Regions from separate parts of the Homo sapiens genome. Here region 2 is linked to region 1. The links come from fine-mapping of genetic effects on gene expression. A gene starts in region 1. The other region holds a variant in brackets. All regions are shown on one strand. Distances are from middle to middle. Region 1 holds the start of ZNF639 (zinc finger protein 639). Region 2 overlaps GNB4 (G protein subunit beta 4).

Evidence for each region.
Region 2: its variant is fine-mapped to the expression of ZNF639 in blood mononuclear cells (TOPMed, PIP above 0.99). The same link has a PIP of 0.9 or more in lung.

The regions. Positions count from the first base shown.
Region 1 is chr3:179,320,453-179,324,845 of GRCh38, reverse strand. ZNF639 (zinc finger protein 639) reads right to left here and starts at 1,815. Exons shown (of 6, transcript NM_001303426.2): 1 at 1,555-1,815. RefSeq lists an enhancer at 856-905 and silencers at 1,476-1,615, 1,646-2,085.
Region 2 is chr3:179,425,257-179,429,649 of GRCh38, reverse strand. GNB4 (G protein subunit beta 4) reads left to right here. Exons shown (of 10, transcript NM_021629.4): 2 at 3,408-3,506. The coding sequence starts at 3,450. Among named protein-coding and RNA genes, the nearest start is that of GNB4, 24 kb to the left of the region's middle. The variant G/A (reference allele first, on the strand shown) is at 2,504.

The sequences.
Region 1 (4,393 bases):
AACACTCAGCCGAACATGTTAAGTAGTCTCTTGTTATTTCAGAATGCATCTCAAGTTCTTTGCAACTTGAAGAATAAAAGTAAGAAAAGGAAACCAAGCGTGGTATTAAAATCAACGTTGCAAGCTGGCCTGGATTCAGGCTGTTAGGTGAGAGGAGGAGGCACACGGATCAGGAAGGGTCTGACTCCTACTTAGGGCCGAACGATAACCAAATGTCTATCGGACTTCCTTTCAGCACAATGGTGATGCCTACTCAAGACCAAAAATGCTAACCATCCTTCATTTTAGCAATCATTTTTATGTGCCTTTTGTGTGCATAACAGCCTTGAAAAAACTTAGCTTTCTACTCAAGGATGTCATAAACATTTGCTCACTAGTCTTCTTAGCAGGAAGATTCTGAATCACAAGCAACCTATCACAGTCCCCCCTCCCTCTGAAATACAAACGACATATGTAACACGTGTCACTGCAGAAAAATCAGAAAAATGTTTAAAAATTTTTTATATCACCTAGAAACCAACATCTTTCCACCTGTCATTTTTTTCAACCAACAAGAAAGTCTATGCACAAAATAGAATACATACAACAGGCAGTCAGCAATCATCAAATAGATAAACGTTTCAAAAGGCCTTTCATGCAATGTATATTCTTCCTAATTGCTGTAAGACGTCTTTACAGTAAATAACTCCATTTTTAACGAGTTTAAAAAGAGTTAAGCTTTCTTTTTCGTTCTCATTAAAATAAGCATATGCTTTAAATTGTAAAAGAATTGAAACAAAAACATGTTGCAGGAGAGCCTGAACTAGAATCCACTACATGTCCAACGTGGAGGCAGTCTTTACTGCAATATCACACGGTCACTAAATACTTGATTCGCTATTTTTCAGTCCGGCATAAATCTTTCTCTTCGAAAAAAACAAAAAAGGCATAAACTGCTTCAAATGATTCGTTTCCCTAGACAGTACTTAAAGACAAAACCAAAAAAGGGGGTTTCTAAGCACCGTCACACGAGTGAGGCGACTCTCAGGCTGGAGGCTTTGGGCGCCAGCATCGACGCCTGCTCTCCGCGGCTACAACTCGTTGCGCGAGCCCGGGGATTCGCCGCCGGAGGTCACGAAGCCGCCGGGCAGGGCCGCAGCGCCAGCGAGGACCCAGGATCGTCCCGAGCCCGGACGCAGCCAGACAAATGCCCGTCGGAGGCGCAGGGCAGAAGTCCCTGGGACTTAGCCGCCTCCACCCCGGCGCCACGCACCAGCTTCGCCCGGGCCCAGAAGCCGGCGCCAAGGAGACTTCCAAGCCCCGACACCAAAGGTTCCGTAAAGACAACGGCAGCAGGGGGCCGAGGGGAGCCCGGCCAAGGCGTCCTGCGCAGGGGGTGGAACTGCCTTCGGGATGGGGGAGGGGAACGCCATCCCGCCATATAACGAAGGCAGAGTTTCCGTATAAAGGGAGCTCCGGTCTCTCCCGCCCTCTCCCGTTAGAAGATGCGCCCGCACGCCCGCGTCCCCTGGAGCAGTCCAGCGCCCGACCCACCCGCTCCTCCCTCACACTCACCAGTCAGTCCCCCGAGGCCCTCCCGGCCGGCCCACGCAGAGGCGGCGGCGGCCGAGAGCGCAGGCGGAGGGGCCGCGCGGTCCTTCCCGCGGACGCACGGCGGCGGGCAGCGCTGCTCCGGCCCTAGCGCTCCCGGACGCTGTGCTGGGCCGACCCCTCTCCCTCCCCGCGCGCCCCACGCCCTGAGCGCCAGGCCCCTGGCCTAGGCTCCGCGGCCGCACTGCCCTGGCCGCCACGCTCCGCGCCTGCGCCGCGCACCTCAGGGGCCCGCCGAGAGGGCGGGGAGGTGACGAGGTGAGGTGGGGGCAGGGAGCGGGCTGCGCGAACGCACCGCACACGCGGCCTGGGAGGGACCACCGGCCCGCAGCCCCGGGGGAGGCCCAGCGGCCCGCGCCCCCTGCCGGAGGCCTTGCGCCGCCGCAGTCTCCTTCTGGGCGGGGAAGAGCCCCTCCCGAGCCCCGAGGGCGATCCCACCCTCTAGGATTACTCCACGCCAGGCGGCCAGCGAATTTATCCCGCCCGCCTCCACCGCCCCTTCAAGCCCTGGGGAACTGGGAGAAACGTGGCGCGCAGCGGCACCTTTCCCACGCTGCTCCTCAAGGGAAAGGACGCGAGTGGTCTTGCCCAGGTTAGGCAAGGCAGATGGCATCTCAGACCCCGAAGTGTGCCAGCCGCCTGTTGGGGACAGAGAGGCCGAGGACCTCGTCACGGTTTTACTGAGGCCACACCAGAGAACCACCTAGGGCTAGGATGCTGCCCTCAGGGCAAGAGGGTGAAACCTGAAGACTGCGAGTCGTTGTTGAGTTTCACCCGATTCCTTGGCTCGAGAAATAGTGGAATGAATGAGGAGTTAAGGGGGACTGGACTCGACGATTTAAGTCCTTTCTCGACTTTGACTTTCTTTGAGCAGCTGTAGAAATGATTAAATTACACGAGCATAAATAAATTTGTGAACATGGTTCCATAAATGATCTCTGTGCAAGTGTGGTGATATGTTTAATTCAGTCCTTTTGACAATGAGTTGAGGTTTTTAGTCACATTTTACAAAATGGAAAAGTAAATGTGTGAGAAGCTAAAGACTGGGTCTTAATTCATTTTGGTAGCCTAAACCCCTGAGGTTCAAACGGTTAAGAGGATGACTGAGAGCCATGTGGATTATCAGGTACCCAAGGTCACTCGGATAGTTAGGGCTGCAATGATGTCTCTTTGTTCACGTCCACTGCTTTTTCTGACAACCACATGCCAATCAACCAATCAATCGCTGGAAAGTAATAATCACAGACTTTACTCTGATCCCTTCACCATCCCCCAGGAGATAAAGCTATATTTGAAAGAGACACTACTTGTTTGTGAGGCTCAGTTTTTATGACCTCCTAAGTTTTATGTGCGTACTCAGCTCAAATAAATGCTCACGAATGCTAGTATGGCCCGAATTAAAGTTCGAAGAAATGTAGAGACATTTTTAAATCCTAGAATAGTTAGTATCTAGCACAGAACCGGGAATCGGTGGAAACCACAAGGGGGTGTCATGCCACCATCTTACCATTTTGCCTTACCACATAGCCTTGTGTCCAACAAAATCTTTATATTTCAAAATGAAGTTTTACTCCAAAACATTTTGTAGTGAAAGTAAACGCACACTCTCCCCAGCATCCCACGTATTGTTTGCACTTAGAGGAGCTTGACTTTGTTTAGATGTTGTTTAACATAGTCACAAATTGCAAGCAATTTCAAGTTCTTGATTAGCTGGAGTGTTTTTCAGTTTCATTTTTGGGTCCCTCTTTTCCTCATCTCCCGCTCCAAGGGAGGGTGATAGCTGGGATAAAACCCTAAAATCTCAAGAGTGCTAAATTGTAGAGTTTGTTAAATACTATTATAAATTTGATTCAGGGCTATTAAAACATCGTTCTTCCAACTTTTTCACACACTTGTAGAATAGCTTAATTTCTCCTTCCTTTCCTTCCTTCCTTTTCTTTTTTTTCTTTTTTCTTTCTCACGGTCTCACTCTGTCGCCCAGGCTCCAGTACAGAGATGGGATATCGGCTCACTGCAATCTCCACCTCCTAAATTCAAGCAATTCTCGTGCCCCACCCTTCAGATTAGCTGAGATTACAGGCGCGAGCTGCCACACCTGGCTAATTTTTGTATATTTAGTGGTGCTGAGATTTCACCATATTGGCCAGGCTGGTCTTGAGCTTCTGGCATCAAGTGATCCGCCCGCCTTGGCCTCCTAAAGTGCTGGGATTACAGGCGCGAGTCACCGCGCCCGGCCACTTAATTTCTTCCTGATTAGAAAATAGTTACGTTTTTAGTACAGAATGGAGACAACAGAAAAGTACAAAGAGCAAAAGTAAATTTACCATAATCTCACAACCCTGAGCTCATCAATGGTAACATTTTGCTTTCTATCTTTCCGTTATTTTTATACCTATACTGACATAAAAATTTGTTTTCAAAATTAGAATATTGGCTGTGTTTTTTTCTAACAGGTTCTTTTTTCCAATTAGTATAGCACGAGCATTCTTTATGTTTTTTGTTTGTTTGTTTGTGTGTTTTTGAGACAGAGTCTTGCTCTTTCGCCCAGGCTGGAGTGCAATGACGTGATCTTGGCTCACTGCAACCTCCGCCTCCCAGATTCAAGCGATTCTCCTGCCTCATCCTCCGAGTAGCTGGGATTACAGGCGCGTGGCACCACACGGGGCTAATTTTTGTATTTTTAGTAGAGACGGGTTTCACCATGTTGGCCAGGCTGGTCTCAAACTCCTGACCTCAGGTGATCCGCCCACCTCGGCCTCCGAAAGTACTGGGATTACAGGCGTAATTGCAGTTTGTTGTTTTT
Region 2 (4,393 bases), 100 kb before region 1:
TGGAAGGGCAGGCAGGCTAGGGTACTGTGAAAAGGCTTGAAGTTCTGGACCTAGAATGCCTGATGAAGTACTGGATGAAGCCTGGTTAAGAAGGGATGAGCCACAAACTCACTATTTTCCACATTGGACCCCTCATCTTTTTTCTTCTGAACCCTATATCCATGACTGTAAAGGACCTGGGATCTTTACCTACTTACAAGCGAATAAATGAGTCTGTTACTGTTTGATGAAACTCCTTGGTCAGAGACAAAAGATTTTATTACTCAACGGTGAGTAGCATGGTGTGATGATGCTTTGTGTTGATTCCCGGTGTTCCCCAGTGCCCACAGGGTGACACAGGTAGGCCCAGATGGATGCTGCACGTGCACTGGATTTCATCACAGCCTAGAGACACTGAGCTTGGGGGTTTTACCCCTTTTACAGTAAATAGAAGCCATTCTGCTCTTCATCTCATGAGGAGACATTGTCTTATTCCTTGAGGTTGCATGTTGCAAAACAACCCTGAGAGATGGCCCAAGTAACAGCCACTAGGGACTTGTGTTCTTGGCATTCCCAGCCAGAATGTGCAGGAAGGGCCCGGGTCTGGGACAGATTGCCTCACCCGTCATCCCATCGGTGCCCCATCCACGGAGTGATGGTGGTGAGGGAACTGCTTTTTCTTTGTTTCCCATTTCTATTCATGGTACCTCCATCCTTAGGGGCACTCAGCCTGGAAATTCTCATTCATTTGGTACAGATCATAGTTTATCCCAAGTAACTCTTATTACAGGTAACTCCTGCTTTAGAAGGTCACTGGTATGTGTGTGTGGCTTTGGGGGAAGGACAGCAGTAGGATGGGTTACAGGTAATTTTTAATAAGCTTAAAAGTTCTGAGACCCAGCCTGGGCTCAGCGACTCATGCCTTTGGTCCTAGTGCTTTGGCAGGGCAATATAGCTAGAACCCCATCTCTACAAATAATAACCATAATAGTAATAATAATAACTGCAAATTTTTAAAAAGTCCCGAGGCCCTTTAGGGTCCCTCGATAGTTCTTTCTAGTGTTTTAGTTAGTAGGAGGGATGTAAACTAGTTGTGCTTACCCAAAATGTTTTGGGACCCTAAAAATAAAGAGGTATCAAAATAATGAGAGTTTCTAGGACTGTGGGGCCAGGGATATCTCAGGAATGGTCAGCAAGGGCAGCTAAGGTTGCGGCTTTAAAGAGCCCGCATGCTGCTTGTCTTCACTTCAGCGGAATGGGATTCCAGACCGGCTGTAATCTGTCCAGTCTGGCCCTCTCTGAGATGCATACTAAATTGTTAAACAATCAAACTTTATCAGGGAATGGTTAAGACTCATAAATAAAGATGGAAAATTTGGATAAACAGAGAAATATGCCACAATATTAAATTGGAAATGGAATATTAGAATGATTTTAGTTCTTCTGGAACTGTTTTATATACCTTAATGCCATTCCAGTCAATCCCAATACATTTATTTTTTAATTGGACAAAATAAATACAAAGTGAATTCTGAAAGAATAAATAGATACTGGTTTTTCTTTTCTTTTTGTCTGAACATAATAAACAGATATTTGTACCATAGTTGATGCGATTGTAGCATAGACATCAAAACCAAATTCTCTCTCATGAGGGGAATCAATCTTTTATAGGAATTTGGACTTAGGACAGTCATTTCGGGCTACAATCTTGACCTAAAAAGTTATAGGCTTGGGTTTTGTACTTAGGGGAGCAGAAAAAGTCATTCTGTAGAAAGAAAAAAACCAAGGAAGATAAGAAGAGAAAAGAGACCAGGACAGGTAGAGAAAGAATACTCCCAGTTTCTAGCCTCTAGTGTCTTTTTGAGGTAGTAATATTCCTGTCTTTTGGTTCTGTGATTCATCCTAAATCCTTAGAATGAATATTCCTTTATTTGTTAAGCTATTTCAGGTTGCTTTATTTACTGGAGACCAAAGTATCTTAAGTGATGGGGATACAACAAAGAATAAAGCAAACAGAGACCCTACCTGAAGGAACTTTACATCTTTTTTTTTTTTTTTTTTTTTTAAAGCCAGAGTCTCACTCTGTCACCCAGGCTGGAGTGCAGTGGTGTGACCTCGGCTCACTGCAGCCTCCTCCTCCCAGATTCAAGCAATTCTTTTGCCTCAGCTTCCCAAATAGCTGGGATTGCAGTCATGTGCCACCACACCCAGCTAATTTTTGTAATTTTGGTAGAGATGAGGTTTCGCCATGTTGCCCAGGCTGGTCTTGAACTCCTGGCCTCAAGCGATGCACCCACCTCAGCCTCCCAAAGTGATGGGATTACAGGCGTGAGCCACCACACCAGACCCTTTACATCTTATCAGAAGGAAAGAGATCACAAGTAAGTAAATACATGCTGATGGTGTTGAGTCTCATAGTGAAAAACAAGACAGGGTAAGAGGAGCATGTTTGGGTGCACATGTGCTATCAGCAAAGGTCCCACTGAGAAGATCACATTTGGGCAGATTTAGTAAGGGAGCAAGG[G/A]ATTATAAAATCAGAGACAGGAGCTATCCAAGCAGAGGCAGGAGCAAATGCAAAGACACTGAGACTGGGGCCTGCTTAGCATGTTCAGGGAACATCAGAGAAGTCTTTGAACAACTGGAACAGAGTGAGTGTGAGAGTGATACATGAGGTCAGAGGGGGGTGTGTGTGTGTAATGATACAGGGTCTGTGGGTCAAGATAGAGTTTAGTGGAGTGGAAAACCATTGGAGGATTTAAAGTGACTTGTATTTTAAATGGATCTCTAGTTGCTCTAATTAGACCAGAGAGTGGTCGAGGGCAGCAGAAAGGAGACCAGGTGAGAGATGGTCATGGTGATGTGGACCCAGACAGTAGAAGTGGAGGAAATCAGAATTAGAACCTGGATAATTTCTTAAGGAATAACTGACATGATTTGCAAATGGATTCGATGGGGAGGCTATGATTAAAACAGGACTGCTCCCACATTTTTAGCTTAAACAATTGTAAGTAAGGATGGTCTTGCCGTTTCCTGAGATGGGGAAGGCTTGGGGGTGGGGTGGGGTTCAGTTTTGAGGTACTGTGTTAGGTGCCAATCCAGACATCCAAGTGGGGAAGTCTCTTGGTGTCCTCTGAACTGTTGTAAAATATTTCTCACCAGACTCCATTCTGGTACTAATTCCCCATAATTCAGCCTTGAATACTACAACTTGGAATTTCTCCTCCATCCTCTGATCATGTTCTTGTATACAACCCTTCAGTAAATAACCTCATTCTATATTTACTAAGCATCTTTAAATTCCTTTAATAATTGACTACCTCCATTGAATTTCAGTAGGTCCAAAAAGAAGTTATATGTCAGTATTGTAAAACCAGATTAAGATGTAAGTAGAGAACTGAATCTTTCTCTTGCTCTCTGTTTTTTAACAGCTGTTTTCACTCATTAGCTCCTGAGGTAAACAAATTGAAAAAATGAGCGAACTGGAACAGTTGAGGCAAGAAGCAGAACAACTGCGGAATCAGATTCAGGTAAAACCTTTTCATTTCAAAATGTTAGCACTTATTTAGTACCAGGAATCTACAAAATTTGCCTATTAGTTTATCAGTCTATATTAAATGATTTCTAAGGCTAGAAATGGTCTTTTTTTCTCTCACATGGCGAAGTAAGAACTGAGGTCTATTTGTGTTTACCATGTCTCGAAAGAACTCTTCAAAATTCATTGCGAACAAGTACCTATGTAGAAGAATGGCCTCTATGAAAGACAGACATAATTCTCTTTTTATTTACATGCCTAGAATCATAGATTTTTGGTACAAAACCATAATGTAGATAGTGTCACAATATAATGTCACACTAGGGAAATATTAATCTATACATTAATTAGGTTGCAGAAAATCATTAGGGTGGGCACAGTGGCTCATGCCTGTAATCCCAGCACTTTGGGAGGCTGAGGCAGGTGGATCACCTGAGGTCAGGAGTTCAAGACCAGCCTGGCCAACATGGTGAAACTCTGTCTCTACTAAAAATAGAAAAATTAGCCAGGCGTGGTGGTGCACACCTGTAATCCCAGCTACTTGGGAGGCTGAGGCAGGAGAATGGCTTGATCCCTGGAGACGGAGGTTGCAACGAGCTGAACTCACGCCACTGCACTCCAGCCTGGGTGACAGAGCGAGACTCTGTCTCAGAAAAACAAAACAAAACTATCAGTGGCAGAATCAAAACATGTCTGACACCTTTTACTCTTGGAATCAACTCAAAACAGTAAGGATAAGAAACAACTACAAACTCCATCTTTAACAAAATTAACAGACACTAGAACTTCAAAGCGTAATGGATGGAGAGGAGTTGCCAAATGCAGTGAAGCAGCAGCACGTGGGGAGGCTCTGAGAGGAGGCGTCTGCGTGGGGAGCACTCT